Linked DNA regions of Homo sapiens: regions 2, 3 and 4 are each reported to be linked to region 1. The links are microRNA targets in miRTarBase. Many come from high-throughput screens and were not tested one by one. Region 1 holds a microRNA gene; each other region holds the end of a gene's coding sequence.

Evidence for each region. Region 1 holds the annotated microRNA hsa-miR-335-3p (UUUUUCAUUAUUGCUCCUGACC, at 3,457-3,478, opposite strand). A microRNA usually pairs through its seed, bases 2 to 8, with sites in the 3' UTR of a target mRNA and lowers its output. Matches are read on the target gene's strand: a 7mer-m8 pairs with bases 2 to 8, a 7mer-A1 pairs with bases 2 to 7 and ends in A, and an 8mer does both.
Region 2: the mRNA of KANSL1L is a reported target of hsa-miR-335-3p. Seed matches in the 3' UTR shown: 7mer-A1 at 1,393-1,399.
Region 3: miRTarBase lists ZNF362 as a target of hsa-miR-335-3p. Seed matches in the 3' UTR shown: 7mer-m8 at 4,423-4,429.
Region 4: miRTarBase lists C1orf56 as a target of hsa-miR-335-3p. Seed matches in the 3' UTR shown: 7mer-A1 at 5,361-5,367, 7mer-A1 at 5,121-5,127, 7mer-A1 at 4,762-4,768 and 7mer-A1 at 4,733-4,739.

What each region holds. Positions count from the first base shown.
Region 1 is chr7:130,492,520-130,499,639 of GRCh38, reverse strand. MIR335 (microRNA 335) reads right to left here and starts at 3,529; the gene lies at 3,436-3,529. It overlaps MEST (mesoderm specific transcript), which reads right to left. Exons shown (of 12, transcript NM_002402.4): 2 at 4,118-4,272; 3 at 2,405-2,484; 4 at 1,627-1,704; 5 at 1,365-1,501; 6 at 1,163-1,221.
Region 2 is chr2:210,016,292-210,023,411 of GRCh38, reverse strand. It overlaps KANSL1L (KAT8 regulatory NSL complex subunit 1 like), which reads left to right. Exons shown (of 15, transcript NM_152519.4): 15 at 233-1,991. The coding sequence ends at 463. RPE (ribulose-5-phosphate-3-epimerase) reads right to left here. Exons shown (of 6, transcript NM_199229.3): 4 at 6,771-6,905; 5 at 5,853-5,939; 6 at 1,152-3,743. The coding sequence ends at 3,621. Among named protein-coding and RNA genes, the nearest start is that of KANSL1L-AS1, 10 kb to the left of the region's middle.
Region 3 is chr1:33,297,916-33,305,035 of GRCh38, reverse strand. ZNF362 (zinc finger protein 362) reads right to left here. Exons shown (of 9, transcript NM_152493.3): 9 at 4,317-6,106. The coding sequence ends at 5,990. Among named protein-coding and RNA genes, the nearest start is that of A3GALT2, 20 kb to the left of the region's middle. RefSeq lists an enhancer at 4,704-5,653 and a silencer at 6,085-6,265.
Region 4 is chr1:151,049,011-151,056,130 of GRCh38, reverse strand. It overlaps C1orf56 (chromosome 1 open reading frame 56), which reads right to left. Exons shown (of 2, transcript NM_017860.5): 2 at 4,711-5,693. The coding sequence ends at 5,673. CDC42SE1 (CDC42 small effector 1) reads left to right here. Exons shown (of 5, transcript NM_020239.4): 2 at 138-454; 3 at 1,005-1,115; 4 at 1,810-1,900; 5 at 2,804-5,146. The coding sequence starts at 401. The coding sequence ends at 1,884. Among named protein-coding and RNA genes, the nearest start is that of C1orf56, 4.8 kb to the right of the region's middle.

The sequences.
Region 1 (7,120 bases):
CCTTTACTACCAAAACAGAATTACAAATAACAATTTAAAACTGTCATCTAATTACTTCTCCAGGAATTCTGTGTTTAACTGGTCACAATAAATCCCACTGGAATTACTTTTCCCATCTTAAAGATAGTGAAACGGGGAGAAAATATATGGTCATCCAAAATGCTGATAACCAGGCTCTGACTCCCCTTAGCATTTCCCCCTATCACTCAGAACACGAGGGTTAATGATTTGGGCTGTAAGAATAAAACAAGAAGTTTTTAAATAAGTATAGGTCCTTTAAAAACCCTAGAGTTTTTCCTTTTCCCTTTCTCTTCAGAGTCAGTGGAAGAAAGCCATGAGCATAAGTGATAAAGGGAGAGACGGATTTCTCTCCCAGTCTGCTCTTAAGGCGTTCAGGAGACATTTGGATATTCATGAACTTGCAAGCTGGCTACCCAGAAAGTCTAATCAGGGGTTCGGTATTTTCTAACTGAAACTTGGCACTGCCATCAGTTAGGAGTTGGGGAATCTCATACAGTTAAGTCCTCACTTAACATCAGGATAGGTTCTTGGAAACTTCGGCTTTAAGCAGAATGAGGTACAGCAGGTCCTTGAATAACATCCTTTCTTTAAAACATTGATGAGAAAAAAAATTGGTTCCATTATAACGTTTCATTTAAAGTCACAGTTTCCAAGAACCCATTGATGACATTAAGTAAGGATTTTCTACACTAACATCATAGTAGTATTAGAAACACTTGTGGCTTTTTTCTGTATCTTCAATCCTACACTCTCATAACCTATTGCAGTTGTTTCAGATATGGCAAACAGTCTTTACACTCCTCACTCCTTCTGATATAGCTGTTACTAGGTCCTCCACTAGAACTTGCTATCTAATGCATTGAAAAAGCACATGTGACTATAATGCAGCTTTTTATTGACTATGTAAGTAAAGTCACTATCCTTTGTAATGCTGTTTGTTTCTTTATTTTAAAACATTCTGAGAAAGGGTCCATAAATCTTGTCAGACCACCAAAGGAGTTGATGGCACAGAAGAGGTAGAGATCCCATAGTTTAATTATGTCTACTTGAAATATTATCAGATTACCATTTAGGTGCCGCTGTATCTAAAGATGGCCCTTCTAGATTACACCCACTTTCTACCTACCGCCAAGGCAATTACCTCCATTTGACAGACAGAGACTCTTTATGGTAAGCCGACCAGATCGATTCTGCTTGTACCTAGAAGGGAGACGAGGAAACACACATGTAGCTGAGCAAACTTAAACCAGTGCACCGCTGAAAACGAGAGAAAAAGGATACAAACAGTCCAGAAACAATGTACTTTCCTAGCATCATAAGCTGAAGTCTGAAGCTCCACTGACCTGTAGAGAAGCTCCTGAGCAACAATATCTCCATAGTCATGAGAAAGAAGGTTGATCCTGCGGTTCTGGAGCCCCAGATGCCGCAAAAGCGCTTCCACGATGCTGGCCTGCTCAAATATGGAATAGTGATGTGGTCTCTGAGGAAAGGAAAGCCCACATACACAGGATGAAGTCATGAGGACAGCTCTCTCTGCCAGCCTGACCCTCATAGTCTGCGTCTGCCCCCACACCCCATCACCAGCCCCACATAGGTGCTGCTTACCGGTTTGTCACTGAAGCCAAAGCCTAAGAAATCAAGGGCAATCACCCGATGAAACCTCAAGGTCAGACCTTCCCAAATCTACAAGAAAGAAACGATGATTTGGGCTTTCTGCTCCTGCCCCTCCCTTTCACCAGACCTACAGTTGCACAGGAGCTTCAGCCCTATCTTGGCTTAACAGACTTCCATAAAGAGAAAACGCCATGAAACTACCACAGGTCCCACAGATGATCCTCTTGGAAAATGCTTTATTCCTGGTAATTAATCCCTGTTGAGGGAGGGTAACTTGGCAGTGATCCCTTCCAGAGTGCCAAGGAGTTGTTTATTCCCTTCAGTAAATAAGGAACAGTTCAACATTTAATGTTTTTTTAAAAGCAATTCAAATGTGCAAGAGCCTTCTGGTGCTGACAACAAAATCCTTGAGGTTTTTTAAATTTTTATTAAAAAAAAATTTTTTTTTGAGACAGACTCTCGCTCTGTCACCTAGGCTGAAGTGCAGTGGTGCAATCTCAGCTCACTGCAACCTCTGCCTCCCGGGTTCAAGCGATTCTCCTGCCTCAGCCTCCCAAGTAGCTGGGATTACAGGCTTGTGCCACCATGCCTGGCCAATTTTTATACTTTTAGTAGAGATGGGGTTTTGCCATGTTGGCCTGGCTGGTCTCAAACTCCTGACCTCAGGTCATCCTCCCACCTCAGCCTCCCAAAGTGCTAGGATTTGAGCCCCCGCGCCCGGCCGAGATTTTTTAAGACATAGTAGGACGTAGAAGTCTGACTTCATTACCTTGTACCAGTCGTAGCTGGATGTTGGAAAACCGTGTAAAAGCACAACTATCTCTGGACTTCCAACCACACCCACAGAGTCTAGGAAGAAGGAAAGTACAATCAATTATGCCAAATCCCTATAAAAATAACCTCGAAGATGTTAAAATCTAAGTAATCTGATACAAAGAACAAGCAACTGTGACCAAATTGACATTAAAATGACACAATTATTTGTAAAATGTAAGCTTAACTGCGTTAGGTGAGAACAGGCCTTTTCTCCTTTCAATCTGTATATTAAAACATTGTAAAAATCATGCTATGTGAAAATACTTGAAGGCACCTTGTTTACTTTCACCTAGGTGTTTTTAAACAGCATCTCCCCATTTCTCCTTTTGTTCTGTAATATGCAAATTTTTTCAGTGAAAAGTAAATTTTCAGTTAAAAGCATATGATCACAACACATAAACTACAAATTCTTTGTACTTTATCATGAATGGCCTCACAGAAATTCTCTAAGATACAGCAACTATTCCCAAGGAACACCTTTAGCTTATGCTGTTTGCTCAGCACTTTTTATTCAGCAGGAGACCCAATCTAACATCAAAAACATAATAAAACTATTACAAAATCCTGTCAACTATAAAAAGGGCTTAATCAACATAAACATGAACTTTTTTAATGCATATGACAATATGGAAGCATTCAGCATCATCTAAATTAGGTAAACATTTAGACAATATTAACCTTGCTAATAGTATGGGATTAGAACAGGTATATTCATATACTGCCAGTGACATGAAAATTTGGTAATAAGGTTTTCAAAAATAATTTAGAAGCAGTTAAAAATTGTATATACTTTAGCCTAAGAGTTTTGTTCTTGAGAATCTGTGCAAATAAAATCATTCCATTTATACAAGTAGTATAGTTTGAAAATGTAAGGAAAAAATAAACTGTATGGACATGAAGCTTTTACTTCAACATTAGTTTTCTAAAACAGTAAAACTGGAAGTAACCCAAGCCAACATAATAAAAATTGTATACTTACTTAATTGAATATAGCAAATGAGAGGAGGTCAGGAGCAATAATGAAAAACGGTTTATGACAAACATTTTTCGTTATTGCTCTTGACCCCCGCTCAAAACAAATCATTTCCAATCTGTTTCTCAGTTTCTTCACCTATAAAATGAGGTTAATGGCACCTATCTCCAAATGCTGTTGTAAAGATTAAACAATGAAGGCTGAAAACATAACTCAGTGCCTGGCATATGGTAATTACTTGATAAGTAGTGGTCATAATAATCATCATCACTAGCAAATTAATTTATATAATGGTATCAAGACTTAAATCACAGTTACACTACAAATAATCTACAGAAAAAATGAAATCAGGGATGGTAAGGAGAGAGAACCAATGGTGGTTATATCTATTAATATTTTATATATTACCTGACAGGTTGCTCAAAAAAAAAAAAAAACTAATATTGGAATACATATCAAGCTACAAAGAAAACTTATACTAAAAGGTAAGGTCTGCAGGTTGGAATCTCAGTCCCTACCCCCATTCTCCCAGCAGTTTTCTGCGCTTCTCTGCAAGCACACTACACAGAAAGAGAGAGAGATACTCTCCTCCATCATTAAGGAGCAACAAGAGACCAATAGCCACAAAATAAATACCTCAGCTGGGACTTATGTGACCGATACACGCAGGACTTCCAATAGTCCACTTCTTACCTTGGTAGAAGATACGCAGTCCCTTGTAAGTGAAAAACTTGCCTGAAGACTTCCATGAGTGAAGGGCAGGGGAGAGCTGAGGGGGTGGGATGTGCAGGTACGCAGCAAGCAGGGGCACGGCCAGCAGCCCCACCTGGACCCACCACTCCCTCATCCTGTAGGAAAAGCAGAGACCCACTGTAAGCAGTCAGGTAACATTGTCCACTCATCTACAAACCAAAACCTGGTAAGATGGGGTGGGAGATTGCTGTTACCATGCAATGATTACATTGCCCTTCACATAGGCACAAAGCTGACCGAGACTATAATCAAACCTCTGTCTGCCATAGCACTCACCATATTTGTTCATCATTCTAATCTTAAGGAAAAAAAATACATTATTTCAACATATAATCTTCTGCCTCTGCTCCCCGACTTTAACCCCTTAGCCCCTACCCTTGTGGTCTTCCCAATACCTGCTGAAGAGGACTTTATATAAATAAAAGGGACATGACTTAAATGCTGGACACTCTTTCGTTGACTTTTATCAAGGCTTCCCAGGAAAAAAATAACTTCTTTCTTATTTACTCCAAAAGCTCTACCATCTACCCACTACCCCCAACCAGTAAAATGTTCAAAAAATATATATGTGCTATATCTCATGTTTTAAAGAGTGTGTGTGTGTAGTAACTTATCACATGTCCTCAAGCAGAGAGCTACTCCTGATTTTCAGCCCTCCTGCCTAAATGAAGCCCCATTTAGTACTCCTTTCTGGATTTGGGCTGAGAAACTGCTCAGGGTAAACAGTCTGTGAAAGTAAGATAGCTGCACTGTGTATTCCAACATAAGCAGCTTTGTCATGACCCTGAATATCTAATCTCTTGAGAGGTCAAGGCGGTAGATTACATTTCTGCTTTTCTTAGCAGACTCTTTAAGTTTCCATTTAATTTCCTAAGATGCTCCCCCACCCCCAGATAAGGCATAACTCATACCCAGCGTGTGAGAATTGATTTTGTCTTTGGAAAAAGAGCACTGGTTGGTACACCCAACCCTCCCATGCCCAGGACTTCAAAGGCACAAGTCAGTTTATCCACATTGACAAGGAGTGCCAAACAGGAATTATAAACCGTTCTGTTTCAAGTCTATGACTTCTGATGGTCAACAGATCAAGAATTGTCAGTAGAATGGAAGTTCTCTCAAAACAGCCAGAATGGAAATAATACCCTCCAAAACTAAAATTAGAGTTGTCATAGAGCTGAAATAAATTAATTGCTAAAGCCCTGGGGGAAATGGCTTTCCGTCTGTACACACATTCTTCCCTATTGCCTGTAATCTACCTACCCGTTCGCTAACTTCCTCAACTTACAAGATACTTTTCCCCCCCATATCCCTGATACTTTTTGCTAAAATCTAAAAACAAGCCTGTGGTTTTACAGTGGTAAAATAACCATGTTTCTTAAACAATGTCAGCTCCCCAGGCTATTTTTTAGGCATTATTAGGGCAGTCATTTCTTTTTTTCTCCAAAGTACCTGTCCATAAGACGGATAGAACCATTTGGTCCTACTTCTCAAGGTAATACTAGAAATGGTTCAAAAAAGTGCCAGAACATGATGGTTATATCACAGTTTTCACCCAACAATAGCAGGCTGTATCCCAGTATCTCCTTGAAAGGTCAGATGACAAAAACCATTAGGTTTTGACGATCATTTGCCCAGCCCTATCTGTCCTGTACTTCAATGTATACATTTTCATGTGCAGATTTCATTACTCCTTTCCCCCAGTGCTTCTCATCGCATTCATCCCCGGGGTTCCAGCAGCTGAATCTCTGCAGTGACTCAGCAGAGAGCCCCGGGAGGGGCGGCCAGAGCGGCAAATGGGGAGGCTTCCCCGCCGCTGCTCAGGGAAAGTGGGGGGTTAAAAAACGAGGCTATCGACCAACATACTCCACTCCTGGACACCCCCCTCCACACCCTCCTCCTCTTACTCCAAGAAAGCAAAGAGGCAACCTCTCAGGGGGCCATTTTTTGTCTTATTACCTCAGTAAAAATGCCCCCATGAACTTTTAGGATTTTTAGAAGTGAAGCAACCTAGCCGTCAGTAGGCAAAATGGGTTAAGCAAACATTTTTTGGCCAAAATCCCAACTATTTGATGAGCCATGAGCGGAGACAATAAGCAAACTCCAGTAACAAACTTTCCAAAAATTTCTGAGCCTTGATTTCTTCATCTTGTAAACAGAAAAACACACTCCCGTAATAATACCACCCAACCTGCCGCCCACCTGATGGCGTCGCCGCGAGACGAACCACTTTGAAAACCCGCGAAACCAAGGTGAACAATCCCTGCGCAACATGACAGTTTGGTCACATCGCCGTTCTCACTCGCGCTTGTTACTGAAATCTGAAAAATACTTAAGGCGGCTGACGGGCACTGCGAGTTCTAGTCACTGCGGTGACTCCCGCCACCGTGATACCTGGGTCTTGAAATCCTAAGCTGCACCGCGGCGATCTCGGCACTGCGATTATCCCGTTCTTGAAATCCTAAGGTGCGCCACGGAGACACCGGGGTTCTAAAAATCCTACATCGCACCAGGGCGATGCTGGGGCCTATCCTTTAAGTCGCACCAGAGCGATGCTGGGGTTCTAAAAATCCTACATCGCACCAGGGCTTTGCCGGGATCTATAAATCCTAAATCGCGCCACGGCAACGGCGGAGTCTAAGAATCCTGAATCGCACCAGAGGGAAGCCGGAGTCTAAATATCCTAAATCAAACCAGGGCGATGCTGGGGGTTAGAAATCCTAAATCATGCTGCAGCAATGACTGAGTATAAAAATCCTAAATCGCACCAGGGTGATGCCAGGATCTAAAAATCCCAATTCGCATCAGGGTGAGACCAGGGTCATTATGGATCCTAAGTCATATCAAGATGACGCTGGGGTCCAGAAATCCTAAATCTCACCACGACGATCCCGGGGTCTAGAAATCCTAACCCAAGGAGGTCCCGCGTTCTGAACATTCCATTGC
Region 2 (7,120 bases), not on the chromosome of region 1:
GCATTTCCTCTTCTTGGCAGAGGCAAAGTAAAGAAATAAATCCCAAAAGTCACTCAACAATTCTCAATATATTCCATTTTGAGTTGCTATTTAAGTTGAAATGAAAAATTGTACATTTATGTGCTAAAGAACAGAACAATTATTACAATATAGACATGTACAGATTACTTGTTAGATGAATTTAAACAAAACAAGTTAGTTGAAACTTAACTGAAAATTTTTCCCCTTTCAGTCTTTGTGGTGGGAACGACGGGCTTTTCCACTGAAGGGTGAAGACATGGCAGCCTTATTATGTCAAGATGAAAAAAAGGATCAGGTTGAAAGGTCAAGCACAGCTTTCCATGGTGAAATCTTCGGTACCAGTGTACCAGAGAATGGCCACCATCCAAAAAAGCAGTCAGATGGAATGGAAGAATACAAAACCTTTGGTCTAGGACTTACTAATGTTAAAAAAAATAGGTGACAGGGAACAGGTTAAGAAAACTATGTAAATGTAGGAAAGATGGGAGGAAATAAAGCCCTGTTCTGGATCCCCCATCCCCTCCAGAATAAGAGCATGTTCTGCATGTATTAATCTTTTATGCTGTTTATGAAACAGGCAAGATAAGTCTGTTTTTCCTTCTGGAACCATAAGGGTAACCAGATTTTCATCTACAGACAAGTGGTAGTCATTTGTGTTTATCATGCAACTTACTTACAAACACCAAGATATTAATTGCTGCAACTTGATGTCAAATCACATTACTGGGTAATTTTTAAGACTATGTACCCACACCATACATACATACATATATATATACACATACATACAAACCTGTGTGCCAAGTGACAGCTATTTTTTTATATACATGGTAATTCATTAAAATTGCCTTAGTAATATATTAGAATATACAAATATGTGTGTATAAAATAAACATACACACACACACACACCCCTATGTAGTTTTTAAAACACTGGCAATGACCCACTCCCCTTGGAAATGCATGTATGAACTACCCTATGAAATGTAAGCTGCAGAATAGATAAAACACAGGTTTCCACTAATAAAAGACATCTGAACGTCCTGAATATAGAGACAGAAGTTTTTTGTTGTTGTTGTTGTTGTTTTAACATGTTTAACCAACAGAAGTTATTTACAGAAATTCATATATCCAGGCAACACAAAACTCCTTTATTCAAAATCACTGCTATCTTTGGGACTAAACACAGGCTACTTTCTGTTTACTCCTAACAAAATAAAGCAAGCAAATTTGAGTCAAATATTGGTGCACTTTAATACTATCACATCTTTGAAAACTCAATTTGAGTTTTACCAATTAATGTGTCTCATGAAGAGAAGACACCAGTTTTAAAATGAGCCACAAACAGTAAAGCCCTATCAGTATAAAATTTGAAAAAAAAAAAAAAGATGATTGTATTTCTAGATTAGCAAGAAATTAGTTAATTCTGGCTGATTTCTATTTCTAGCTAATTTGGTCATTCTTTGCCATAGCTTACTCTATTCAAATAAACATATATTCTTGCTTGCATCCTAGATTGGAAATTAAAATTTTTCAAAGAACAAAGCTTCAATATTGGATACTGAAGAGTATACATGAAAGAAAATTCCTTTTGAAGCTATTAAACCATTTTTTTCCTATGTGAAAGTTGAGGACAATTTATATAACTCACTTTTTGTCATGTAAAAAAGGTTACTCAAGTTGTACTACCCACATAACTGAAAATATTGGCCATTTGGCCTTATCTGTGAGATTTGACACTAAGTTTTTGTTAGAGATTGGAAATTATACTAGTCCTTTTAAGGGGTAAAAAATTCAATTCAATACTGACAAACTTTTGCTTGTAGTTTTACTGTACATTTATTTTTAAAGAAAAAGAAAACAAAAGCCAGACAAACCCAAGTTGTCCAGGCAAATAAACTCAAATCTTTGTCACGTCTGATATTATAATCTTCTATGTAAGTTTTTTAATTAAAGTTATTTCTATATGCCGTGTGTTGCTTGTTATTAAATGCGACGTATTCATGGCACAAAGCTTTCCCAAGCTGAATAAAAACAAACATTAACAAATTTTTACCTTGTAATGCAGGAAGAAACCCAAGCAAGCTCTAGTCTGTGCTTAAGTGTTAGCATTCTTATTTTTTGAACCTTATTTCTCAAAACTTATAGTAGCCTCAAGAAGTCTATTGATATTGGTCATGTTTATTTCTTGCCATATTTATAACACAGCAAGAGTATTTACAGGAATGAAGTAGCTGACACATATTTTTAGACTCTGTATAATTCAGAACAGTTATAAATATTTAGTTTATGGATTGACTCTGTATCCTGTCATCTTTTCGCCTACCTGATCTTTCTTGGAATAAAATAATATATCCTTGGGGTCAAGATCCATAGTTCCAGAATTTTCTCAGCCATCTGGTTCTGCTACAGCGTAAAATTAGACTGGAAATAAGACAACGTTAAGTAAAAAGCTTCTTTTACCTAACCCACCTCCCAAGGGCTCCATTTGTAAAAGTACAGACCAGAAATTCTACCACTTCCCAGATCCTTTCCAGGGTACCACCCTATTAAGCATTAATTTCTTCATTTTTTAAATGGGGACAAAAATATCTGCTTTATTATTACCACTTACTTATAGAGGTGATTTACAGATTTAATGAGAATATATCAAAGTACTTTATAACTCACAAAAATATAAACTTATATAATGCTGTTTACTTTGTGTTGAGCATATTCTAAATTCTGGGACTAGTACTGGAAACTTTACATATATAGTGTTAGCTCTTAATTCTCAACAGAACCCCACAGTTGCTATAATTACATTTAATGTATAAATGACTTTAGAGAAACACAAAAAAGATTGGGTGATTTGTTAAAGGTCCAGCTAGAAAGGGGCAGTCAGAATTCAACCCAATATTACCTCCAAACAGAGGTTTTACTTTTTCCTTTCTACTCAGAGCTAACACAACAGCATTATTTAACGTTCTTAAGAATGGTGGGGAGGAATCACTGAATAACCTGCTTTGACAAAACACCCTGATAAAATCTATGCTTGTATTTTAGAACCCCTGGGTTTCACACATTGTTTTTATAGTTTTCACACATCAAGTGTAAGGTGAAAAGTGATAGATTTTAAGAACCAAGAATATGGTATGCACCCCACCCAAACTTATAAACAAATCACAATAACATGAAATAGAAAAAAACCATAAAGACTTCCTTTGCTTTTGGAAAACAGCTGAGAAACAACAAAATTCTTTTCAGAAGTACAGACAAAATTTGTTTTTGTAGTGTAGCTAATATGCCCTCCTTAGACATTAAGACACTTTTCTGTTTGTAACCCTAATGCAGCCGTATTTTTACTTTATAAAAATCAAATCTCTCAATAAAAACAGTATCTTACTCACTAATCAATAAATTGCATCACTAAAAATGTAGTTATACACACCAATTTCTGACCTCTTAGAATATTCTGCACAATCAGTTTTAATCACTGGAATGAATAACTGCTCAAAAAAGCAGTACGGCTTCAATTGCATTGTGATTTGGTAGTCAATATTCCTGTTTTCCAGTAAAAGGGAGATTTCATGAACAGGAACACTGGGCTCCTTATGGTTTCACCGATCAAGAGAACGTTTCTGAGCAGCTTCTGAGCAAACATTTCTTAATAGATTGATCACAGATCTGGGGTCTTCACTCCTCATAATAGCACTGCCAGACACAATCATGTTAGCTCCTGCCTGGAAGAAGTAAACAGTTAGGTTATGCCTCAAAGGAAAATGTAGAAAAACCTAAAACAGAATTCCTGGACTAGAGTGTCTACCCTTGCATCTGTCAACATTTCAATCATATGAGAGCCACTTTGAGATTAAGCAGACTTAAGCAATCTAGTTCAATAAGAAAAATTTAAAATGTTCACAGATGAGGATGTCAGACTATTTTTAAATGTGTCTAAGAAATCATTGACCTTTCTGGTAAACCAACTCTTAATAATCTACATGGTATCTTTGCGACCTTTAGATAAGGTTTAAAAGCCTTTACTCCTCAAGTCCACTAAGGTTTTTCCCAATATGCACCAATGCCTCTACAGTTACTAAAAAAACACTTTTATTCTTTGAATTATATTTATATGAATTTGTGAGTGTGAAAGGACAATTATTGCTAAAAATGTAAAATTATCCATAAACTACGGCAAAATTAAGTGAGTTCTCGTTTTTGTGTCAAAAAATAGAATGTCTCTTTATACTTCATTGCATTTCAGAATGGTTTTGAAGTGGCTTTAAAAAAGTTTTTAAGATACATTTAAATATGGAAGCAAAGAAATTGAAAAAGAAAAGCTAAAAAATTGGGTCCAAATTTAACTCTGATCTTCCTAGGATCTGATTCAAGGATGGAAACCCAATCTGTTTTGTGATTCATTGCTAGAACAAAGAGGGAGAAGTGGGAGAACCACAGGCTGAGGAAAATTTTTCCAGACAGATAGTGTCACTTCATGTATGACAACATTTCTAACAATATTCCTCACAGAAATTATAAAGGTGAGTTTTATAGGGTTAACACTGCAAATATTCTCTTCAGTTAACCCATTTATGCCTAGTGTTCCATTATTGGAACGCTAAGCTTGTGGGAGTTCTTCATATCCTGCTGTTTAAGGTCATCGCCAAGGTCTGATTTTTCACACAAAAAATTTGCTACCTCTGGCATAAAAGCAGGAATAGTATACTGGCAAAGCACAGTTTAGTACAAAGCAATTCCACAAGCGATCAAAAGGATATGAGCTCACTCATCATCTGGCCAGCCCCTCCTGCATAAGTATTTACTACTGTCAAGCTTTTGATAGGTATATATCAAGCAGAAACGTGTGGCAGTTATACAAGAACCTGGAAGTAGATACATCACACTGTGGAAGAAAAGCAGTCATGTAAGCTTTAATCACTTGCAGTGCTACCAGAAGGGCTGGCATCCTCAGGAGCCTGACTATGCTAGACTAGCTATCTGAAAAAAAAAAAAAAGTAAAAAAAAGTTTTTACTTCTATACAGATAGCCAAAGAGGTATCAGGCCTAGATTTTCATCAAAAATGGTTCTAGCAAGTTCTTACAAGGAACAACTAAATAATATGTAGGTTCTAAAGAATAATGTAATAATTAGGTCAATTAGATTTATCTATTTTCCCCCCTTGGTAGTACCTTTTAATTCCGTATTTTGGAAAAATTTCTCACTTCCAAGGCCGTGAAACTTAATGATCTTCCAAAGGGCTGAAATTCAACATATTCTTTTATAAAAAAGAACTTTCTTCAGCCTTCCTGAGAAAACCAGGATTTACAATTTTAACAATTTATGTGATTTTAGAATATCCACTTACGGGCCAGACGCCATGGCTCACATCTGTAATCCCAACACTTTGGGAGGCCGAGGCAGGCAGGTCACTTGAGGTCAGGAGTTTGAGACCAGCCTGGCCAACATAGTGAAACCCTGTCTCTACTAAAAATAAAAAAATTAGCCAAGCATGGTGGCAGGTACCTGTAATCCCAGCTACTCAGGAGGCTGAGGCAGGAGAATCGCTTGAACCCGGCAGGCAGAGATTGCAGTGAGCAGAGATCACGCCACTGCACTCCAATCTGGGCCACAAAGAGAGACTGTCTCAGAAAAAGAAAAAAAAAAAAAAAAAAAAAAAGCATATCCACTTATGGCTGTTTATTTTCCTAGTTGTACATGTGAACAAAAAATACTTTTCCAAGAAAGAAAGTCAACTTAGGAACCACAGAGGGAATCGCTGGCCCATGAGACAATGTCCTGGAGACATATTTGACGGGAAATTGGTCTAGTCATAGTTGAAGAGCAATCTCACCTCTGCACATTTATGGACAGTGTCAGGACCTACTCCACCATCGACCTCTATATCCAAAGATGGGAACTGGGTCCTCAACCAGTGAACCTAGATATATACATGAGGAAATAAGTAACTCCTAAAGTGGGTATGTTGGTGGGGGTGGGGGTGGGGGACAATCAAACAAAAAAATCCAACAGCAAATATTAGCAATTAAAACTCCAATTGTCTCACACAATAACTATACCAATACAACATATTACTGGGGAACACTTGGTTTTTAATAGCAAGCTTTGTTCTATTTGGCAAACAGCAATCTGTATTGTCTTTGCAGAGACTGTCATGTAAACAAGACAGACAAATCCTCAATAGTCAATGACAACTTCCAAGAGATCTAAAAGTTAGAGATAATAGTTTCAAAAGGAAATTTCAAGACTTCCAGGCGTGGTTGGCTGCCACCTGTAATCCCAACACTTTGGCAGACCAAGGTGGGAGGACAGCTTAAGCCCAGGAGTTCAAGACCAGCCTGGGTACGTAGTGAGACCTCCTCTCTACTAAAATGTGTAAGAATTAGCCGGGCATGGTGGTATGCACCTGTAGTCCTAGCTACTCAGGGGGCCGAGGCAGGAGGATCTCTTGAGTCCAGGAGGTCAAGGCTGCAATGAACCCTAATTGAATTACTGCATTCCAGCCCAGGTGACAGAGCAAGACTTTGTCTCAAAGAAAGAGAAAATTTCAAGATAAAGATGTAATACTTCTCTGATTTCCAAATCAGAAATCTATTACAGCATTTATTATACTGTATTAGAATGATCTGTAAGCATCCCCATCTCCTCACCTTCAGAACAGGTTATGCCTAAATATACAAGCCTTTCAATAAATGCTTACTGAATGAACACACTGTAAAAGCCTCACCCCAAAATCAAATACTTCTTTTACCTTTGGCATCATATCTTCCATGAATTTCTGCCCTCCAAACCCCGGTTCCACTGTCATAACCAAGGCCATATCTATCTGATTAGCCCATGGTGCCAAATACTCAACTGAGGTTCCTGGTTTGATGGCAAGGCCAACCTGTAACAGACACAAATATGCTATATCACATTTACAATTACTTCTGTATTATATTATTGTGGCATAGCAGGCCCAGTAGAAATATCTGTTCTTATTTTTTAAAAGTTAACAAGACTATTAAATGTAAGTATTTTCAACAAGCAGTAGCTTTCAGAAAACTTTAGTGGAATACATAAATGCTATGTGACAAAGAAGTTAAATCCTGGCATCATAGC
Region 3 (7,120 bases), not on the chromosome of region 1:
CTGGCTCTCCTGAATCTTTTATGTAGTATTGTCACCAACCTTGCATTTTAATAGCCTCCACTCCCAGGTAGGGCAGCAATTCTTGCTATTTACCAGGCCCAGCTATTGACAATAAGAGAGATCTGTCCTCTCAAAAGCAGTTCAAAATGTCTCCTGTCTAAACTAGATTAGCAAAACCCAGAAGGTCTTCTGGACTCAGGATTAGAGATGAGAATGGGCCACGTGTGTCAGAACAGGCAATTTGGCCGGGCACAGTGGCTCACACCTGTAATCCCAGCACTTTAGGAGGCTGAGGCAGGCGGATCACAAGGTCAGGAGTTCGAGACCAGCCTGGCCAGCATGGTGAAACCCTGTCTCTACTAAAAACACAAAAATTAGCCAGGCGTGGCGGTGGGCACCTGTAATCCCAGCTACTTGGGAGGCTGAGGCATGAAAATCACTTGAACCTGGGAGGCGGAGGTTGCAGTGAGCCAAGATCGTGCCACTGCACTCCATCCAGCCCGGATGACAGTACGAGACTCCGTCTCAAAAAAAAAAAAAAAATTTCTGCCTGTGAGCTGGGGAAGATGTGTGTCCTCCACCTTACCCTGCAGCATTCACTGAGGGCCACACGTGCTGACCCTAACAATTGCTGCAGACCCTAACAATTGCTGGGCCATTCAATACCTGAGCATGAGCCAGCAAGAGATGATGTGAACTGGCTCTTCTTCTGTGTGTGGGTAGACAAGTTCCTTACCTTTGCTGGCCTCAGTTTTCTCATACGTGAAATGTGGATGCCACTCTTCCTCCCTGCAGGGGTTGTGGTGGTGCTCTAGAAAACACAACTTGCCTTCCTCTCCGTGCCTGCCCTTTCTCCAGCATGCTCAGAGAGTGCAAAGGATTTGCCAAAGAACAGTCATTTCCTGTTTTTTGTTTGTTTGTTTTTGAGACAGCATCTCACTCTGTTGCCCAGGCTGGAGTGCAGTGGCTATGATCATGGCTCACTGCAGCCTCAACATCCCTGAGCTCAGGTGATCCTCCCACCTCAGCCTCCCAGGTAGCTGGGACTACAGGCATGCACCACCACACCAGGCTTTTTTTTTTTTTTTTTTGTAGAGGCGGGGTTTCACCAAGTTGCCCAGGCTGGTCTCGAACTCCTGGGCTCAAGGGATCCACTTGCCTTGGCCTCTCAAAGTGCTGGGATTCCAGGCATGAGCCACTGTGCCCAGCCAGTCATTTCTGTTTTAAAGGGGGAATAAATGGCATGCTCAGGAGTTTCCAAGGCGTGGACTGGAGGCAGCCTTGCGTTGTTGGGGATCTTCTTGAGGAGGGAGGGGTTCCAGGAAGCTGCAGGGTGGGCAGCCCTTGGGAATGGCTCCCCTCCTAGTGAGCCCAGAGGCCTAAGGAGGGGTTGTGGGGGTGGGTACAGAGGGACTTGGATCTAAAGCAGGAATAACAAGAGGGCTAAAGCTCCTTCTGCAGTTGCCTCCATTACCATCAACACTGTCCTCAGCACCTATCCTGAGGCTCCCCCAGGGGCAGTGGCACTCACTCCCCACGTGAGCAAGTGAAAATCAGACTCAGTCCCCTCAGCATCACTGCTACATGCAAAATCTCCACCTGTCCCAGCCGCCCCGCCTTGCCATGCAAGCTCAAATGCCACCCCTAGAAATTCCCAAACATCTTCAGCTCTCAGTCAGGGATCACTGATCATAAGGATCATAGATCCCTTAGGGCTAAGGCAAATAGCAGCAATAATGATGTGGACATATATTGGGTCTTACAACGTGCCAGTTCTAAGCATTAGACAGGTATTGATTCATTTAATCCTCACATCCACACTGTAAGTTGGTTACTACTGTTTACCTCATTTTACATATGAGGAGATCAGGCACAGATTTAGTAACTAACACAATGTCACACCACTAGCAACTTAAACTCATTGAAGTGAGAACAAACAGGAGATTAAACATAGCCAGAGGATGAAGACGGACAGGAACAGAGGTTACCACTAGCTCTTGGTCTCCTTGGTCCATTTCTGCTCTTTCTCTGCCGGCTTTGTTCTTCTGCTTGTGTCCAGCTCAACACAGTCACCCCAAACCGCAGTCTACAGGGTTTTCCAGTTCAGGTACCCACCATCTCCTAACTTGTTCCTAATTCATGGAATAGAGAATCTGACAGGAGAGTCAGCTCCGTCCGGTGGTGTGCTGGTATAAGTCTAGCAGTTGACTGGGGAAAAAGAAAGCCCTGATTTATAGTGTTGGCCAATATCCATGGTGTAAATCCCACCATGGCTGATTTCAAGCTACCAGTACTCCCTGAATGCAGAGCTTGGAAGAGGTGTGCACAATTTTCTCACATGAATCAGGACAGCCATTATGCACCACTGGCTGCACCTATGTATCAAGTCAGAGTCAGGTGTCCACCCCTGGCCAATCGGCTGTGGCTGCAATGGGGTCATGTGACACAAATATGGCTGCCAGAGCCCATCCTTTCATGGCAAAGCAGGCTATGGGAGGTCAATTTCAGAGAAAGAGATGAGGCCCCTGAGATTACTGAAAACATGCTGGTTCTTGGCTACCACACATCCATTTCCTCTTCTGATAGTAACACACTCTGGTTTCCTGTTAGGGAACCTCTTGTGCTTCAGAAAGTAAAGAAGGTGAGGGCTTCACCCTCTACTCCAGGCTTAGAGCATGGGCCCTAGGCCCAAGCCAAACAAGCACACAACATGATGCAGTTAGAACCAGGAAGACCCAATTAGACTTTTGCTGGGTGCTATGGTTTGAATGTGTCCCCCCAAAAAAACATATGTGTTGGAAACAACCCCCAGTGCAACAGTGTTAGGAGTTGGAGCCTAGTGGGAGTTGTTGGGCCATGGGGGCTCCACCCTCATGAATGGATTAATGCTGATTATAAAAGGATATGAGGCTTCGAGTTCCATTTTTCTCACTCTCACCCTCTTTTTGAGATGGAGCTTGTTCTGTCTCCCAGTCTGGAGTGCAAATGGTGCAATCACGGCTCCCCACAGCCCTGACCTCCCAGGCTCAAGCAGTCCTCTCACCTCAGCCTCTCAAGTAGCTGGGACTACAGGCGCATGCACCACCACACCTGGCCAATTTTCTTTTTCTTTTTTTTTGTGGAGACAAGGTCTCCCTATGTTGCCCAGGCTGGTCTCAAACTCCTGGACTCAAGTGATCCTCCTGCCTTGGCCTCCCAAAGTGCTGAGATTACAAGCATGAGCCACCAAGCCTGGCCTCACCCTCTCTTGCTCTTCTGCCTTCTGGCATGAGATGACATGGCATGAAGGCCCTCACCAGATGCTGGCACCATGCTCTTGGACTTCCCAACCTCCAGAACTATGAGACTGGAATTTATCATGAACAGAATGAAATTTCTGCTCATTATAAATTACTGAGTTTGTGATATCCTGTTATAGCAGCATAAAACAGATGAAGACACTGAGGCTTTTGTCAGAGAGACAAGAGGCTTGATTGCTGGAACCCTGGGGACTGAGAGACTAGAGCTGCTGACCCCACAGGCGCCTCAGGCTGAAGCTGACTCAGAACAGAGTGGAGAGCTGGAGACACATCCTTTGAGCCCTGAAGCTGGCCTGACCACTGTCCTGTTACATAAGCCAATACACCCTTGTTTGGATTGGACTTTCTATCACTTGCAGCAAAGTCTTGACACATGAGGACTGTGAGGACTCAGGGAAACGAGTTCGAACCAATGATGACCTCCATGGTAGATGACCTCCATGATGACCTTCCATGGACAGTGGAAGCACTGTCCCCCTCACAGTGCTTCCACAGGGCCAGACATGATAAGCTTTTGGGGATTTTATTACTAAATTTCCTTCCTAGGCAGTCAAAACATTGACTCCTATGGGGAAAAAACAATGTATGACAAGGATGTCTTGGACTCCCCCTCCAATCACTAGAATCACTTCCACAAATCAGGCACTCATGATGGACCCCCCCCCCACATAGGTGGGGTGCCCCCTCAGGGAGCAGTGGAAGTGAGACTTATTGGTGGACCTAGTATATCCAAGAAGGCTCCAGAACTAGGCAATGCTGGGTCAGTTTATGTCACTGCCACTATACTGCAGCATGATCCTTAGCAAAGGGCCTCTCTTGGTTTGCTGCCCACTTCTTAGGGAGTTGTGAGGCAATCAACATAAAGCACTCAGTTCAGCACCTGGAGTGAGGCCAGCCCACAGTGAGAGGCCACTTTCTTCCTTCTCCAAGTCTGGGGGGCGGGGGAGGGGAGAGGAGCAATGGAAAGGTGCCCCCCAGCCCTGCCCTCGCACAGAGCACGCCAAACACCACCGCCACCCGGGTGCAGGTACAGTTTATTCTTCACAACAGAGAAATACAAAGAGCAGAGGGTTTGTAATTCCTTTGTTTCTTGCCCCCTTTAGTGTTTTCCCCCCACATTTGATTTTCATTTGCTCCCCACTCCCTTTTTTAAATAGAATGCAAACTACCTTCCTGAAGTGTCTGAGGGGCACCTGCCCTCACCTCCCTGCCTCCAAGATGCAGACTGAGAAGCCAACAGACTGTTTTTTCTTTTTTAATAAGGTAACTAGTTCTAAATATGGTGGCCTGGAGGTCCCATAGAAAAAGCAAAGGGGTGTTAACAGTATGTATAACAGCGTATTTACAGGGAGTAACATGCGGACAAAAAGCTACAATACTGAGTATCAGACGACGCAAGTCAAACAAAGGGCCGGGGGTGGGGGCAGAGAACCCCATGGGCAAAGAAACCCCAGGAAACGTTAAACTGGTAAATCAATGGCGAGTTAAGGCTTAAAAAGTGTATAAAAATAACACAGTTAATATTCAAAACGGAACTCCAGATACAGAATATATAGATGAGTTTCTGTCTAGTTTTCTTTTTTTTCCCGGGGGGATGTAGGGGGCTTCTCTGGGCTCTGTACATGGTTCCTATATACACCGACACGCATGGCTTTCAGATTGGGGTGTGTCTGTGGGGGCTGGGGGCAGGGTCTGCTCCTGGGACCTGCCTCCCCGGGGATCCCTTCCCTGCTGAGGGGCCTAGGGCCTCGGCTGGGGATTCCCACTCCATGGCAGGGAAGACAAATAACCCCTCCCTGGGCACTGCCCCCATCTGGAGGAAATTCTGGAGGGAGGTCCCAGATCCAGGCCCACTCCCTCCCCATCCCCCTGCCCACAGTCTGGGATGGTGGGAGAGGTAGCCGAAAGGTTTCCTGGCCAGCACCGAGGTAGACTGGGGTGGTCTTCAGGGCAGCAGGGGAGGGCCAGGTCTTACCCAGCCCATCCCCACCCCATTTCCCTGGGCCCGCCACCCAGCCCATCACTGCACCCTTTGGTCCTGTGGATCTCCCACCCCTCTCGTTTCTGCCTCCTGAAGCTGCCGCACCCCTCTGCTCAGTGATGCCCAGGGCACAGCTCGAGAGGTGCGAGCCAGGCACTCAGGGGCGAAGGGCTCACTCCGGCTGCTTCCTGCCCCTCCCACCTGGGGGTCCCCTTTGCAGTCCAGAAACCTAGGCCCGAGCCTTCCCTCAAGACCTGAGGCCATGGCAAGAGAAGGTCCCACATTGCCCTCTGGTTCTCTGCGTCCATCTGTCCGATTCTTTAAATTTCTCGGTCTTAGCAGCACCAACTTCCTGGCCAATAAATATCTTTTCTGTTATTTCCAAAACAAACTTAAAAAAAAAAAACGAAAAAAAAAAAAACAGTGAAGCAAGTGAAGGGTGGGGAACAAAAAGAAAACTCAACAGAGAGGTTCAAAGTGCTCTGAGATCGTCTTTGGATGCCACCAAAACAGTCCAGAATCTTGCAGTTGGCCTGGCCGCCCCCGGACTGGACCAGGCAGGGCTTCTGCGGACCAAGCTTTCTGGAAGATTGGGAAGGTCGTGAGAGAGCTTGGTGGTTCCTGGAGGGCCCCCGGAGGGAGCTGGGGCCTGGTGCTGCCTGGGTCTGTGTCTGCCAGTGGGCCGGGTGGGGCGGCGCCTCCAGTGGGCTCAGATGAGAGAGATTCGCACCGGGATGCCGGGGGACTCCGTCCTCTGGGGCGAGTGATGGCTCACCAGGTGCTCCACCACCGTGTGTTTGGACATGTGCTTCATCAGGTAGGTCTCCTGTGGGCAGGGATGAGATTCAGAACAGGGAACCACCAGCAAGGGAGGGAGAAGAGGCTGCAGTTCCCACCAGCAGCCACTGGAGGGCTCTTGGTAGGCGGTTCAGAGGGTGGAGGACAGCCACAGTTTTGCAGGGTCAGATGGGCGTCGGCCATTGGTTCTAGAGACACTGCACTGCTGCCAGTATGAGTGCTGGCTGGAGAGCTCACCCCTCAGCAATGCCCACCTGTGGCTCTCCAGGGCCAGGCCCCCAGGCCCTTGCCACCTGGATGTAGCTGGGTATACTGGCTGAACCTCAGCCCTGTCTGCCAGGTGAAGCACTGTGCCTGCATCTGGCTGGTGATCCCAGTGACAGTGAGGCAGCAGGACTGGGTCTGAGCCTAGCTCTGCTCTTTCTTAGTGGTGAGAACTTGGACAAGTCATCTTGTCTCTCTGAGCCTCAGTTTCCTCCTCTGTAAGCAGGCATAGGGGAGGAACAACCTCAACAGGTTGCTGTGGTGACAAAGATCAAGCCCTTAGCATGGAGTAAGGGTTGAAGGGTCCACTCCTGCCCCAGTCTCTACATTTCCTTTCCTTCCTTTTCTTAAGGTCTCACTGTGTCGCCCAGGCTGGAATGCTGTGGCACAATCACAGCTCACCACAGCCTCAACCTCCTGGGCTCAAGCAGTTCTCCCACCTCAGCCCTCCAAGTAGCTGGGACTACAGGTGGGTACTATCATGTCCTCCACTGGCTCTGCTGGATCTGACCTGAGGCACCAGGACTGGGTAGGTGAGGTTGTGACCCAGGGCTCACTGCAGGCCCAGAAGCCCTCACACTAAGCCACATCCTTCCAATCGCCTTTGCCAGAAGCAGAGGCGGTACTCCCACCTGCCACTCCTTGACTTCAGACCTCAATATGCTCAGAACCCAGCAGAGGAAGCCCTCAAATGTGGCGGCAACATGCTATCCAATACCAGAGGGAAGCAACCTGCAAATTCCTAGCTAGGAAACTATTCTTCAGTGAATAAATAACA
Region 4 (7,120 bases), not on the chromosome of region 1:
GGGAATGAGTGTTGGTGTACAGGTCTAGGGCCTCTCAGGGAGGACTGGGAAGATATAGGCTCATCAGGAGGTTTCTCAAGGATTGGGGGAGGGGGAGATTTCTCACTGATCTTTCTTTTTACTTTCTTCTAATCCAGGGTTCCGAGTCTGAGGAAGACATAACCTTGTGCCTGCCTGCCCACCTCTCTCTCTGGTCCTGTTCATCTCTCAGGCTCTGAGACACTGACCTTCACTGCTCAGTTAAAGGTTCCAGGGATTCCACTTTGTCTGGACCCATCCAGCTGAGTGAACCCAGGGTGGTGGTGTATCTGGGGAGAGTGAGGAGTGGGTTGTCCAAACACCAGGGAAAGAGCCCTTTGGGGCCTCAGACAGCGGAGTGAAGCTGGAACCATCAGGGAACATGAGTGAATTTTGGCACAAACTGGGCTGCTGTGTGGTAGAGAAACCCCAGCCGGTGAGTCTCCCCACCCCCCATCCTAACCCAAAGAGCAGTCAGTTACTGTGTGCTGTGAGGTAGCCACACCATCTAGGATCTGCCATCTAAAAAAGCACACTTCTTGCCTCCCTCTGTGTCAGGAGCTTCTATGGTCAGGCAGCTGTATATGTGGAACAAAGGGGACTGGGTGATGGAAGAAGTGAATAGTCCTAGCTATTACCTCCTGTTCCTGTCCATTCTGAGCTGGGTGGGGTTTGTAGGTGGAGCTGCATACCTGTCAGTTTTCCCCATTATTTCATCATCAGTCAGAGGTGACTTTGACATGTCCTTTCTTTGTCCAGTGTTCACTCTGCAGGCCACTGCCCTCACTACTCTGGTTCATGTCTTCTGTGTGCTTTTGTTGTTCCAGCTTTGCCTTTCATGCCCTAGTGATTTCCCTGTTAAAATGCCACATCCCCTCTTCCCACCAGGCCCTTAGCTTTTCAGTGGTTTTGAAGACTCTTTTCCCTTCCTCCGTGCTGACTGGAGGAGGGGCCTTAAGACATGACTCCTTATCTTCTCCAAGCAGAAGAAGAAGAGAAGACGGATTGACCGGACCATGATTGGGGAACCAATGAATTTTGTTCACCTGACTCACATTGGCTCAGGGGAGATGGGGGCCGGAGATGGACTTGCCATGGTAACAAGGAAATGGGGAGAGGTTGATACAGGGGTGAGGTCTATAACCGTTCCCTCTTTTTGAAAGTTCAAGCTAGGGACATATGAAAATACTCAATGGGGAAGTAAAAACCTGGGATTCTAGTCCTGGTCACCAGTTGTGGAAACCCGAGACCTGGCATTTTAGGTGTCTGGGCCTAGGTTCTCTCATCTTTACAACTTAGCAGATTGTTCTTCACTGGGGTAGGGGGTATATATATCTTAATAGTTGGAGGGCTTTTTCCAAAAACTTATAACTCTCCCTTCTCCTAATTAAGAACTGCTATCTCAGTGCCACAGTAAATCATATATTTAGGAGTGTTGGGACAGGAAAAAAGCTGAGTACCTTCATCCTAAATAATGTCTAAGATGCACTTCTGTTCCCAAAATAAGGGAAATGGGTCTAGAGATAGTCTTTTCTCAGATCCTGAAACTCAGATATATAGGGGAGAATCCATTGTGAGGGAATATTATTAGTAAAAGACCCATTTTACCTCATCCTCATGAAGGCCAGTGTGAAAAGAGGCATTGAGACTCCCCTAGGAGGAATGGTGGTTAGCAGATGGCTGCTATTGTCAAGGAGATGGCGTCAGCCTCTTCCCTGGAAGGCACAAAGTAGAGTTCTTACTGTAGGATATGAAGACTTACGAAGGTGTCTCGCATCTGTTTTTTTACAGACAGGTGCAGTTCAGGAGCAGATGAGATCCAAGGGAAACCGAGATAGGCCATGGAGCAATTCTAGGGGCTTATAGCTCCAATAATGGAATGGTGAGTGATTAGAGAAACCCATCTAACACCTCAGCCCCCATAACAGCACAACCTGATACCCTGACTCAGAACCCTGATCTTATGCAAGAAAGGGAGGTGTGGCCGGGCATGGTGGCTTATGCCTGTAATCCCAGCACTTTAGGAGGCCGAGATGGGTGGATCACTTGAGGCCAGGAGTTCAAGACCAGCCTGGCCAACGAGGCAAAACCCTGTCTCTACCAAAAAATACAAAAATTAGCCGGGCACAGTGGCGTGCTCCTGTAGTCCCATCTACCTGGGAGGCTGAGGCATGAGAATCACTTGAACCTGGGAGGCGGAGGTTACAGTGAGCTGAGATCGCGCCACTGCACTCCAGCCTGTGTGATAGAGCAAGACTCTATCTCAAAATATAAAAAAAGAATGGGAGATAGGGAGGAATTAGAAGGGAAGATTCAAGAATGTAGGATCTAGGCCGGGCATGGTGGCTAACGCCTATAATCCCAGCACTTTGGGAGGCCGAGGTCAGCAGATGACTTGAGGTCAGGAGTTTGAGACCAGCCTGGCCAACATGGTGAACCCCTGTCTCTACTAAAAGTACAAAAATTAGCCAGGCATGATGGCACACGCCTGTAATCCCAGTTACTCAGGCGGCTGAGGCCGAAGAATCACTTGAACTCGGGAGGTGGAGGTTGCAGTGAGTCTAGATTGCGCCACTGCACTCCAGCCTGGGCAACAGAGTGAGATTCCATCTCAAAAAAAAAAAGAATGTAGGATATAGAAAGACTGAGAGGGTGTTGTGCAGACAGAAGTAAAGAACACACTGTGGAAATAGCTTAAAGTCTGCACTAGGTAGTGCCTTCTTCCTAAAGCCTTGGTTTTCTTTGAGGCTAATCTTCTTTAAGAAAAACTTTTTTTTTATTTCAGGTTCTGCCATCTTGAAACCCCCATTCTGTTTCCAGCCCAGAAGAAATGCTGCCCCTACCAGATCCCTCCTTGAACCAGTGATCTAAGGACCCCTCTTTTCCCTATCTGCCTAACAGTGCCTCACAAGGCTTGGGGGCTGGACTCCCTCTACTCCCTCTGGCCATAGCCCCTCCTGGAGATGGGGTCAAGGCAGCAGGACTGATCAAGTGACTACTGGTTAGCCAGAGGAGCTCAGCTGAAGCCCTGGAAACCCTCAGGTCTGAGATAGGAGTTCTCTAGGAACCTGGAATGAGTTCCTGTCTCCTGAATGATGGTCTGGGTGCCACCTGTTTTTAAACTCTTAAACCTGGAACTCCTTAAATGGGGTAGGTGGGTGAGATTATCAAAGCTGAAGCTGGCTTTGCTGAGAAGCTCCCTACCTCCCTGCCCTTCTCCTCCTTCCTGCTGGAATGAACTAAAGCAGATGTCAAGCAGGGGCTGGTGGGGGTGCCTACTCCCTTTTCCACTCTATCTTTAGATTTCAAACCTTAGGCTTACAGCCCCTCAATATCTCTCTGCTAACACCAGTGTCTCTTTCTAGTTAGGCCTCTAATCTTCTGTTTCTGTTTACCAGCTTCCCAGCAACTTTCCTTTTTTAAAATATTAAAAATTTAATTCAGGTTCTCTTAATTATCCTCATCCTGCTGTTGCCTCCGCCCTTAACTCTATCCCTATTAGGAACCTTGTTTCCCACCGAATAAGAGTTAAGGTAAGAGGTAGCTCTTCACCTGATGACATTCCATTTAAGTTTTGGGGCATCTTTCCTGCCCTCTGCCAACCTCCCTGCTGGCCCAGGTGAGAGGAGGAAGAGGGGTCTGGAAAGAAACCCAGAATGCGGCAGAACTAGGAGTAAGTCCATCTCAAGGTGGACTTCTGATCATTGAGGATGGTGAGATAAATAGGTTGAAAACAATCATCTGTGAGTTTAGGAGTCTTAAGATCCTCACAGCACGGGAGCAGGGAGAGGCTCTAGAACAAGGTTTCACAACCGAGATGCCTTTGACATTTTGGGCTGAAGTGTTCTTTGTAAGGAAAACCTGTTTCCTATTTTGTGCATTACAGGATATTTAGCAGCAACCCTGGCCCACTCTAGTTATGACAACCAAAAATGTCTCTATACATTGCCAGATTTCTCCTAGGGGGCAAAATCGCCTCCATTTGAGAACCACAACTCTAAAGTCAAGATATTTTTCTCTGAAGTGATTTCTGCTTGGCACGCTACCCTCATCATCTTACTCATCTTAAGCCCGAGCCATGGATCAACTAGGAGCCCATATAAATGAGGCTCAGTAGGGCTGCACATAATCTCCAAACAATTCTTTATTCAGTGTTTTGCTTGTGTTTGCATGTTGCTATGATGGACAGGTCCCCCTCCTCCATTCTTGCCCTCTGGAGAAGTGGTTCCTGCAGTGTAGAGATATGAACAGGGTATGGTAGGATTGGGGAAAGGGGAGAGAGAAGCAGTAGATACACTCCTTATCCTCCCCAAATTTTAAGCTCTATTTCTGTGCCCTAGTCCTAGACACACATTAGACTCAGGGAGTTTTGTCTGAAGACCAGGTCCCACTGCCCCCTGGCTGAAGAGTCTGCTTTAAATGGGAAAACAACGTAGGAGCAGGGGTTTTTAGGCACTTTCAGTATTCTCAGGTGTTCTTCGTTCTGGCCCTTCCAGGGTAATTAGGAAGGCAGAACAAGACAGATGAGCTCCTGCCTGCTCTGAGACAAGAAGGGTGGGGTCTCATTAGCTTTGCAACAGGAAACATCCTGTTTTATGGTAGTGGGGTCAGGAATGTAGGAACTGGTATCCATTCTGCCAATTCCACCACCCATTCAGTTTGCTTATCCCTACAGAACAGTGACTGAGGTTCTTTTTTTTTTTTTTTTTTTTTTTTTTTCAAATTTCCATGTATTTTCTGCCATTTTTCAGGGTCTAAGATTGGTCATACATTCCCAATTTACTCTCAGTTCCAGTCAAGCTGGTTGCTCTGAAAGTAACCCAGCTTGTTGCTCTAAAATACCTCAGTAGCCTGAGTGTTATACTAGAGATCTAAAGGGTTAACAGGATAGGGTGGAAAGGTTAGAGACTCCTAGAAATCTCTGGTCACCGTGATCTTCGGCCTCATTCTAATACCTGTTCTTTGGACAGTCTTTTTCCTTTGGTGCTCTCTTGCCTTTAGCTACCTTCTCTAATATGTATGCTACCATCACTAATAAAGTGATGGGAATGGGTTTGAGAGTCGTAATTTATATTAAAAAGTTGTTGGACTTTTAAATACATTTTTTCAAATAAAAAATTAAGCAAAATAGTTGCACAGTAATCATTGCAGGTGTGTGTTGGATTAAAGGATGGATATAGCTAATGAAGATAACTCCTCGAAAGTGGCTGAGATGGAATTTTGTACCAACATTGCCCTTTTGAGGAGAGAGGGCCAAGCATGAAGGCAAGAAGACCACTGTCATCTTTCAAGGGCTCAACTCCTTGTTCTTCCTACTCCCTTTTCTTAGCGTTTATTTGAGATTTTTCAAGCCTGTAAAAGAAGTACTTGTTTTAAAACAATGTTGGAAATGAGGAAAATGAGCAATATCAACATTTTATCCTGAGGGACAGGGAGTAGAAAACAAGCCAGAGGCTGCTAGTTACATAGTTCAGTCTTAGGGATGAAGGGATTTATGTCTCTCCTCCCTCAGGTACCTCTGTAAAGAAACACAAGACCAAACAATGTGTTTTCCAGTTTTGTTTTTCTGTACTAAAAATATCTAGTGGGTGCTAGGATTGAAAGGGCAAGAGAGGTTGAGATACTGACATCTCCTCATGTGGATGAAGTGGCCATTACCTCTGGTTTCTGTCTATCTGCGTAAGAAAAAAAAATAGAGAAAAAGGGAAATTACAACCACATCTATATTCTTTTCCCTTCCTTGCTTCATCTCCCCCTCCCACAAACCCATATTCCCTCAACCCTACTGCCCACCCCTTACTTATTTTTGTATGCAATAATGGTATTGGACACACAAGGAGAAAAACAGAAACAAGCAAAATGACCAAGTGTAAGCTTTATTACCTTTCCCTCCTCAAAGTCCTATCATCCGTATCAATTGAGACTACCTTATCAAGTCAATCAGAACCTTTGCTAATTCTGGGAAAAGCAGAGGACTATCCTTCCTTGTCCTGGAAGGACAGTACTCCCAAATGGTAGTGGTGAAGAGAGTGGGCACTGGTGTCAAACCTGGTTTAAATCTCGTGGCTCTGCCACTTACTAGCTTTGTAAACCTCAGTTTCTTCATCTGAAAAGCAGGGATAATAATACCTCATAGGATGTGAGGATCGATTCAGGTAAAGTGCACATAGTAAGACCTCAAATTTTGGCACTTGTTGCTGTTAAGCTGTATTAGGTCAAAACTATTAATTGATTAAGATCCTTCATATCTGTTAATTATCTGTGCATCAAAAAGACTTTATGGGCCGGGCACAGTGGCTCATGTCTGTAATCCCAGAATTCTGGAAGGCCAAGGTGGGCAGATCCTTGAGCTCAGGAGTTGGAGACCAGCCTGGGCAACATAGCGAGATCTTGTTAGCCAGGCATGGTGGTGCACGTCTGTAGTCCCAGCTATTCAGCAGGCTAAGGTGGGAGGATTGCTTGAGCCCAGAAGATGGAGGGTGCAGTGAGTTGTGACTGCGCCACCACACTCCAGCCTGAGTGATGAGAGACCCTGTCTCGAAAAAAAAGTCTTATGGTCAGGGGCACAGTAGCTCATGCCTGTAATCCCAGCACTTTGGAAGGCTGAGGCAGGAGAATTGCTTGAGCCCAGGAGTTTAAGACCAGCCTGGGCAACATAGCGAGATCTTGTCTGTGAAAAAAACAGAGAATTTCCAAGACCAGGCATGGTGGCTCATGCCTATAATCCCAGCACTTTGGGAGGCCGAGGCGGGTGGATCACTTGAGGTCAGGAGTTCTAGACCAGCCTGGCCAACATGGTAAAATGCTGTCTCTTCTAAAAAAAAAAAAAAAATTAGCCGGGCATGGTGGTGGGTGCCTGTAATCCCAGCTACTCAAGAGGCTGAGGCAGGAGAATTGTTTGAACCTGGGAGGCAGAGGTTGCAGTGAGCCAGGATCACGCCATTGCACTCCAGCCTCGGCAATAAGAGTGAAACTCTTGTCTTGAAAAAAAAAAATATTTCCAATCTTAACTATTTGGTCAATAATCACCTAATGAGCAGTAAGACATTTTACCTAATGACCAACCAGTAGTTGCTCAATAAATAATAGGTGGAATCAATGG